Linked DNA regions of Homo sapiens. The protein of the gene in region 1 purifies or fractionates together with the protein of each later gene. This does not show direct contact. Each region holds a gene or a part of one and is shown in the gene's direction. Other genes may lie near its edges. The genes, in order: SCML1 and RMP64.

What was found.
Region 2: the proteins of SCML1 (region 1) and RMP64 purify together in Homo sapiens (affinity purification with mass spectrometry, with the first as the bait; one large-scale study listed by BioGRID). This does not show direct contact.

What each region holds. Positions count from the first base shown.
Region 1 is NC_000023.11:17,747,376-17,751,199, forward strand, and holds part of SCML1 (sex comb on midleg-like protein 1), read left to right. Parts: intron 1-2,024; coding exon 2,025-2,129; intron 2,130-2,518; coding exon 2,519-2,918; intron 2,919-3,824. UniProt on the Homo sapiens protein: Putative Polycomb group (PcG) protein. PcG proteins act by forming multiprotein complexes, which are required to maintain the transcriptionally repressive state of homeotic genes throughout development.
Region 2 is NC_000003.12:113,002,610-113,006,433, reverse strand, and holds part of RMP64 (nucleolus and neural progenitor protein), read left to right. Parts: intron 1-403; coding exon of another isoform or gene 404-429; coding exon 430-898; 3' UTR 899-3,824. UniProt on the Homo sapiens protein: May play a role in cortex development as part of the Notch signaling pathway. Downstream of Notch may repress the expression of proneural genes and inhibit neuronal differentiation thereby maintaining neural progenitors.

The sequences.
Region 1 (3,824 bases):
AGAAGCCACTTCTCTTGCTTCCCATCCCTCCTTTCCTGTCATCCTCACTCTCTTCTTCCTGTGACAGCCCCACTCCTGGAATGTCATTCATACTTGCTGTCTCCACACCTGGCTTCCTGTTTTTCTCTCTGGGTATTTATGAACCTGCTGTTCCTTCTATGCTGTAAGCCCTTCCATGCATCCTCACCTGGCGAGGGCCTTCTCATGTTTTAATTCTCACTTCAGACCTCACCTCCTCTGAAAAGGTCTCCGTGACTGCAGCCTGGGTTAGGACTGCTTTTCTGTGCAGGCTTAGCCTCCTGTTCCCACCTGTGTCACGCCACTGGTAATAACAATAGTAACATGAAGAGACCACTGAGCACTGTTGGACCGGGTGTAGTGTAGTGCTGTTACTGTTAGTATTAACCTAATACTATAGCAAGGTTCTCGTCCTCGAGAGAACCCTGAGAGAGCTTTTCATCCTGATTCCCTACATGAGGACACTGAAGCACAGAGAGGTTAAGTAACTTGCCCTGGGTCACACAGCCAATAAGTGGCTGGACTGTAGTATTTGACCCCAACCATGTTCCCCAAGAGCCTGCACTGTTTATCTCAGTGCCGCAGCCCTGTGGTTCTCACTAGGGCCATCAGAATCACCTGGGGGGCTTGTGAAAACATAGACCACTGCCCCCACTCTCAGAGTTCCAGGTTCCATAGGTCTGGGGTACAACCTGGCATTTGGCATTTCTGATGAGCTTACAGGTGATGTTGATGCTACCAGTCCGTGGACCACACTTTGCAAACCACTGTTCCAGGCTGTTTATCACTTTGTCTGCTGGAATCCTCTTTTTACTTGTCTCTCTCCCAGCTGAGATGGTAGTTCCTCTAGGACAGGCTGGAGTGCAGTGGCTCAGTCATGGCTCACTGCAGCCACAACTTCCCAGGCTCAGGTGATTCTCCCACCTCAGCCTTCCTAGTAGCATGGACTACAGGCATGCACCACCACGCTTGGCTGATTTTGTGTATTTTTGGTAGAGACGGGGGTTTCGCCATGTTGCCTAGGCTTGTCTCCAACTCCTGAGCTCAAGCGATTCACCTGCCTTAGCCTCCCAAAGTGCTGGGATTACAGGCATGAGCCACCGCACCCGGCCAGGAGCTTTTTTTTTCGGTCCATGTTCTCAATACCTAGCAAAGTAGTTCTGCCAGGTGGTAGGCCATCAATAAAGGTTTAGTTGAATGAGTGAATGAATGAATGAATGAATGAATGAGGAAATGTTTCTGGCCCTTTGTTTAAGTGTATTTTTCTTTGCCCAAAGTTTCTGTGTATTTCAAGAAGAATTCTCAGATTTTTATCAGCCTCCTATGTGCTTGATTGCAATGTTTCTGGCCCTTTGCTTAAGTGTATTTTTCTTTGCCCAAAGTCTCTGTGTATTTCAAGAAGAATTCTCAGACTTTTATCAGTCTCCTATGTGTTCGATTGGCGCGTAAGAGATGTGTACTTAACGGTTTTGTAAGATTAATTGCTGACTGCGTGATTTAAAAATACTTTGAAGCCAAAAGTCACATCTGTTATATTTGGTTCAGTGTTCTTTCTGGAGTGGAACACTCACTGTCTGTATATAATATAGACTTCATATTTGTACATATATGAACATATATGTTACATATGTATATCATAAAGTGAGTCTTTGTTCTTTTAGCAGATTTCTTTCCTAAAATAGCACCTTCCTTGATGTGCAGTGTCTTCATCATCAATGTGCTAGCATAGAGGCATTGTGGGACATTCATTCACCAGCATTAGAGCTTCCTCAATTCCTACATGGAGTAGAGCAGGGGAGGGGACTACTCTAGCTCAGCCTGTTGGCTCTGTGTCACCTACAGCCAGGCCTTGAATAGGAGCAAGACATTTCTGATGGCTTGAGAACTTTTGTTGTGTCTAGCAGTTAACATTTGACTTAATGGTATTTTCACGTTACTTTTCTTTGAAATAAAAAATTATATTTTACATTGTATACCAATTATATGACTACATTGTATTATAATAGGTTATATATGATGCTCTGCAAAACCTGGATAAGAAGATTGATGTGATTCGTAGAAAGGTTTCAAAAATCCAACGTTTCCATGCGAGATCCCTGTGGACAAATCATGTAAGTGTTATAAAAAACATTTTTACAACTGTGATAAACCTCTGGTTTGTAAAGATGCCAATGAGCTAGAAGTGAGAGAGTACCAGTATCTGTGTGAGATTAGCAAGGCATGTCTATACTTGTAACAGTAGATGGAGACTAAACTCTGTTGGGAGAACGCTGAAGTTTAGGTTTGATAATTTATGATGCTGCCTATTTTTATGTTTGTAATTATAATGTGTAAAATACAATTAAAATGTAGGATTGAAGAATTATATAATCAAAAGGGACCATTTATTTTTAATAATGTAAAGCAATGTTGCATGGAAAATAAGTATTAATGTATTTGCTACTAATTTTATTTACTTTTTTACTCACTGTTGGTTTATGCTGTGTTTGTGTGATTTCAGAAGCGATATGGATATAAAAAGCATTCTTACCGGCTTGTTAAAAAGCTTAAACTCCAGAAAATGAAGAAAAATGAGGTTTACGAGACATTCTCCTACCCTGAAAGTTACAGCCCCACTTTACCAGTGTCAAGGCGTGAGAATAATTCCCCGAGCAACCTTCCAAGGCCATCCTTTTGCATGGAAGAATACCAGCGAGCTGAGCTGGAGGAGGACCCGATCCTCAGCCGCACTCCGAGTCCAGTGCATCCCTCAGATTTCTCTGAGCATAATTGTCAGCCGTATTATGCATCTGATGGTGCAACGTATGGTTCTTCTTCAGGGCTCTGCCTTGGCAACCCTCGGGCTGACAGCATCCACAACACTTACTCAACTGACCATGCTTCTGCAGCACCACCTTCAGGTATGCTGGCCCAGGGAGAGCCCAATTTGGTACATGCCCCTGAGATGATGAGTTACTCAGCTTTGATGGAGAATAGGTATACTGGATCATCTCTCTGCTTCCCTTCTGGTTTGGTGAGTTTGAAATGCCATATTTACAAGTAGCACTATTTGACCTATATTTATCAACATCCTTGATGCAAACTAGTGGAAGCTGTTCGTTTCCTATTTTGAGGGCTGGTTTTAGGTGATATTCAGAATGATGACTAACATTTATTCAATGCATATTATGTGCAAGGCACTGCACCAATCAGCTGACATGCCTCTTCTCCACTTATACTCATAATGACCCCATGGTTTTGGCACATTTATTACGCCATCCCCACGATCACAGAGCTGGTGAGTAGCACTTCTAGAACTCTGCCCCATTGTGCTTTTCCAAATCTTCTATTTTTATTTACCCTTTCCCTAGATAAATAAAAAACACTCCTGATATGGCAAGAGCCCAGATGGTAGGGAAGAAAGGGTATGTTTTTGGCTAATTCACACACACAAAAAGATCAAATTGTGTTGATGGTCCTGGTTGGAGAAACAAATTTTCCTAACTAATTACAAAACCCACTTTAGTCATCACACACTAATTTTAGGGAGTCTAACACTGTGGGTGAGTAAAAGGATACTTGTCAGTACACAAAGAAATTTCAACACAACTTAGTGTAGAGCATAGCTAAAACTTTCTGAAGTATGAGCAGTTAAACTGTCTCATATCTCAGTTATTTTTTAAACATATAAACCTTTGACCAAAATCTCTATTACTATGCAATTAAACATGAAAGAGGAATTAAATAAAATGTTAGTTACTTCTGACCTAGTTCAGCAGAAAATAATCTTGTTTTCTTCACAATGCACATTAGCACTTAAGCCACGA
Region 2 (3,824 bases), on another chromosome or scaffold:
TTGTTCATTTCCTGCCACAGCATGAAGCTGATTATCCAGATTCGGATTAATACGTACTGGCAGATTTTTTCATTTGTGATGTTTCCTCATGTCCACTCATTACATTATGAACAGATTAGCAGTTATGAGGGAAAAGCTCTGACACTAAAGTATAGGGTATCTCGCCATTCAGCTAATTGCTAGGCGGCTGTACTTTTGAGAGTTTGAAAGCAAAATGGGGACACATTCGTCTACACTTCAATCAGAGGGCATTTGTGCTCTCAAAAAACAGACTTGGGGTGAAATTTTTCGATGTGGTTCTGGGATTGTACACAGGCATAGGACTTGTAGATAAGTTGTGTATTTTTCTTTTCAGTTGGTAAATTAAAAGTGCTTGAGAATGTTTTTCTCATCTTAAGCCCAGATTTTTCCTCTCTCTGTCTTTTAAAGTTTGCCAAAGAAACTAGAGTGCATAAAAACGTCTATTTGCAACCACCTTCTTCGTGGCTCAGGTATCAAAACTTCAAAGCATCATCTGAGACAGAGAAGATCACAGAATAAATTTTTACGGAGACAAAGGAAACCACAGAGAAAGTTGCAGTCGACTCTTTTAAGGGAAATTCAGCAGTTCTCTCAAGGGACTCGGAAGAGTGCTACAGATACCAGTGCTAAGTGGAGACTCTCACACTGTACTGTGCATAGAACTGATCTCTACCCTAACAGTAAGCAGCTCTTGAATAGTGGAGTTTCAATGCCTGTCATACAAACTAAGGAGAAAATGATTCATGAAAATCTTAGAGGCATCCATGAAAATGAAACTGATTCGTGGACGGTGATGCAAATAAATAAAAACAGTACATCAGGAACCATTAAGGAGACAGATGACATTGATGATATTTTTGCTTTAATGGGAGTTTAGATGTTCGTTCATATGTGAGACTTTTAAGTGATTAACAAGGCTAGTTCAGTGTTCTAAGTAGAACTGCTAAGATCTGGAAGTACCACCTGGACTCACAGAGGAGCTGCTTTAGTGCAGCATTGCACAGGAGTTCATTTCAGTTCAGTCTACATTTAAAGTAGCATTGTGTCATTTCATCAACAAGTATTTCTTTTTTGGCTTCAACTACATGTCAGGTGTTAATATGAAAAATCTGCCACAGCCTACCCTTGAGAAGCAGATGTAATTCCTTGAGTGAGGCTAGTAAGTCTCTGAAAAACTGAATAATTTTATGACTTACTAGGCAATTTAATAATCGTTTGCAAAAACCATTGTGTCTTGAGGTAAATGAGGAGCGGGGGTGGGAGATAGCAAGGAAACACCTGAAAGGTCAATTTGGTCTTATTGGCTCCATTATACATAGGTCCGCCTCTGAATACTAAAGTTTGTAGCTCCTGACATTTATGTTTTCTTGTTTATATGTTGGAATTGATCAACAAGGTTTGCCACTGCTTGTATTACCAGGGACTGGTTACAACCATTATTTCTCTTCATTTGCTTGGCTTATCTCATATTAAAGTGAGTTTGGAGTTCTCCAAAACGTTTTAATTTTATTTATTTGGGTACCAGTGATTGATTCCAAATAAACCTTTTTACAAAAAGGCAATAAGGTGGTTTATGGTTACATATGAAATATAATAGGATAACAGGTAGATGAGAAAGTAAAATGAAAAAATGAGGTTAGGAGATACAAAGTAGACCCAGGAATGAGGCTAGAACATTTATAATTTGGTGTTGATGCTGTCATCTGATAGGGGATGTTGCTCGTACTGTTGCTCTGAGGGGAGTACATCTTGAGTATTTTCAAATAATGATGTGAAGTTTGAGGTAGGTATCTTTCCAATGTTCTAACTTTACTAGAATTAGGTTATTAAGCTTCTCTAGTGCCCTTAACTTTTGTTACATAGAGATTTAAAGAAAAAGAAAGTAGTACCTTAGTATGTACCGCATCCTTCTTTTCCTCAGCCACCCTATCATAACAGAAGTTATTTCCCTTCCATTCTTTATTTGGCTTTGTTCTTTCCCTGTCTGCCTTCTCCATTTTCTCAGTTATCTCTACCAGTGGTTCTCAAACTTTAGACTTTTTGAGAATCACCTGGTGGGTTGCTAAAAGATGCAGATTAGCCCTTTCCCAGAGACTGATAAACAGGGGCCAGAAACCTGCATTTTTAACATGGAGCCCAAGTGATTTTGATCCAGGTGGCCCCCAAATCCAGTTATATAAACACTACTTTAGCTTCTCTCCTGAAGCCTTAAGTAAACTGGTTTAATTCTTAATCTGTAGTCAGTTTTCATATTCCTTTTGGCTTTCTACCAAGTGGTAGTATCCATTTAGTGCCTTAAAATACAGACAATACCAAGGAGATTTCATTCTAGACAAGTCTAGAAATGGCCATTAACTTCTAAGTGTCCTTGTGTTCAATGAATATCCTTTACCTATTGGGAAATAGAAGGTAAATTAGTAAGAGAACTGGTGTATAGCTTTGTGGACCATAGGGCTTATTTGCTGAGAGTTGTCTATATTCATGCACCCAGTCCCCTAAGTAGCCTCTTTTAATACTTCATTTAGCTGATTCAGAAAAAAACTCCCTGGGAATTAGGAGATTTAAGGTTCAGTCTTGCTTCTCCTACTTGTGGCTTCACTGAGCTAGTCAGTTTCCTCAGGCTTAGGTTTCTGGATTTGAAGTGGAATTTTTTCAAGAATGAAACTTTTATAGCTGAAATAAACTTTGGAGCTTATCTTTCATTGGAAAAACCAGGGTGGTTCAGTGAGTTAAGGACAATATAGCATGGACTGGGCTGCCAGTCTAGCATTTGTTTCCAAATTCATTCATGTTCTTTTGGAGTATCTTCATCTCCTCTCATTTTCCCATCTTCTGCCCTTTACTATTCTGGGAAAATGGCAAAAAAGCTTCACATGTGTCCACAAAATGACAATTTGTATGTTTATAAGGAATTCAGTATTCTGTATCAGTTACTTTTTCCAAATAAATCCAAATATTTAACATTTAAAAAAATGCAATCTAAAGTATACCAAACTGTAACTTACCTAGTAAATGAGATTAGAAACTATTGTCAGGGTCATCGTAGTGAATTATTATTATTATTATTTTTTGAGACAGAGTCTTGTGCTGTTGCCCAGGCTGGAGCACAGTGGTATGATCTCAGTTCACTGCACCCTCCACCTCCTGGGCTCAAGCTATTCTCCCACCTCAGCCGCCTGAGTAGCTGACACTATAGGCACCACCATGCCCTGGCTAATTTTTTAAAAACTTTGTGTAGAGATAGGGTTTCACCATGTTGCTTAGGCTGGTCTCAAACTCCTGGACTCAAGGGATCCACCCACTTTGGTCTCCCAAAGTGCTGGGATTACCCACATCCTAGTACCAACTTTATCACTTCTGATGGCATTAGGACACACAGGCCATTTATAAGAGCAGTGTTTGAGACCTCCTGTGTGTCACTTCCAATCCTCTTGGCCTTCATACTAAAGTCACTGCTGTGGCAACCAGTTTCAAGCAGGGCTGAACCTTGCCTCTTGCTCTGGGGATGTCTCACTTCCTGCCCCTGGGCTTCTCACCAGCTACAGGAACTGCCTAGCACTTGGGTATGTACAACCTGGAAGAGGTGTGGGGCCACCCCATCCCCTCCTCAAAGAAATTCACAGGCACAGTATGAGGCTAAAGTAACTTCCATCTTGGATGCTAATCTACCATGTTGACTTCTGATAACCAGTTCCTGGAATGCCCTCTAAGATTTCTACTTTTATCTATTAAAAGAACACACACACACACACACACTGTAAATCCTGGCCTTAAGCAAGTTATAGGCTAAGTTGTAAACAGCA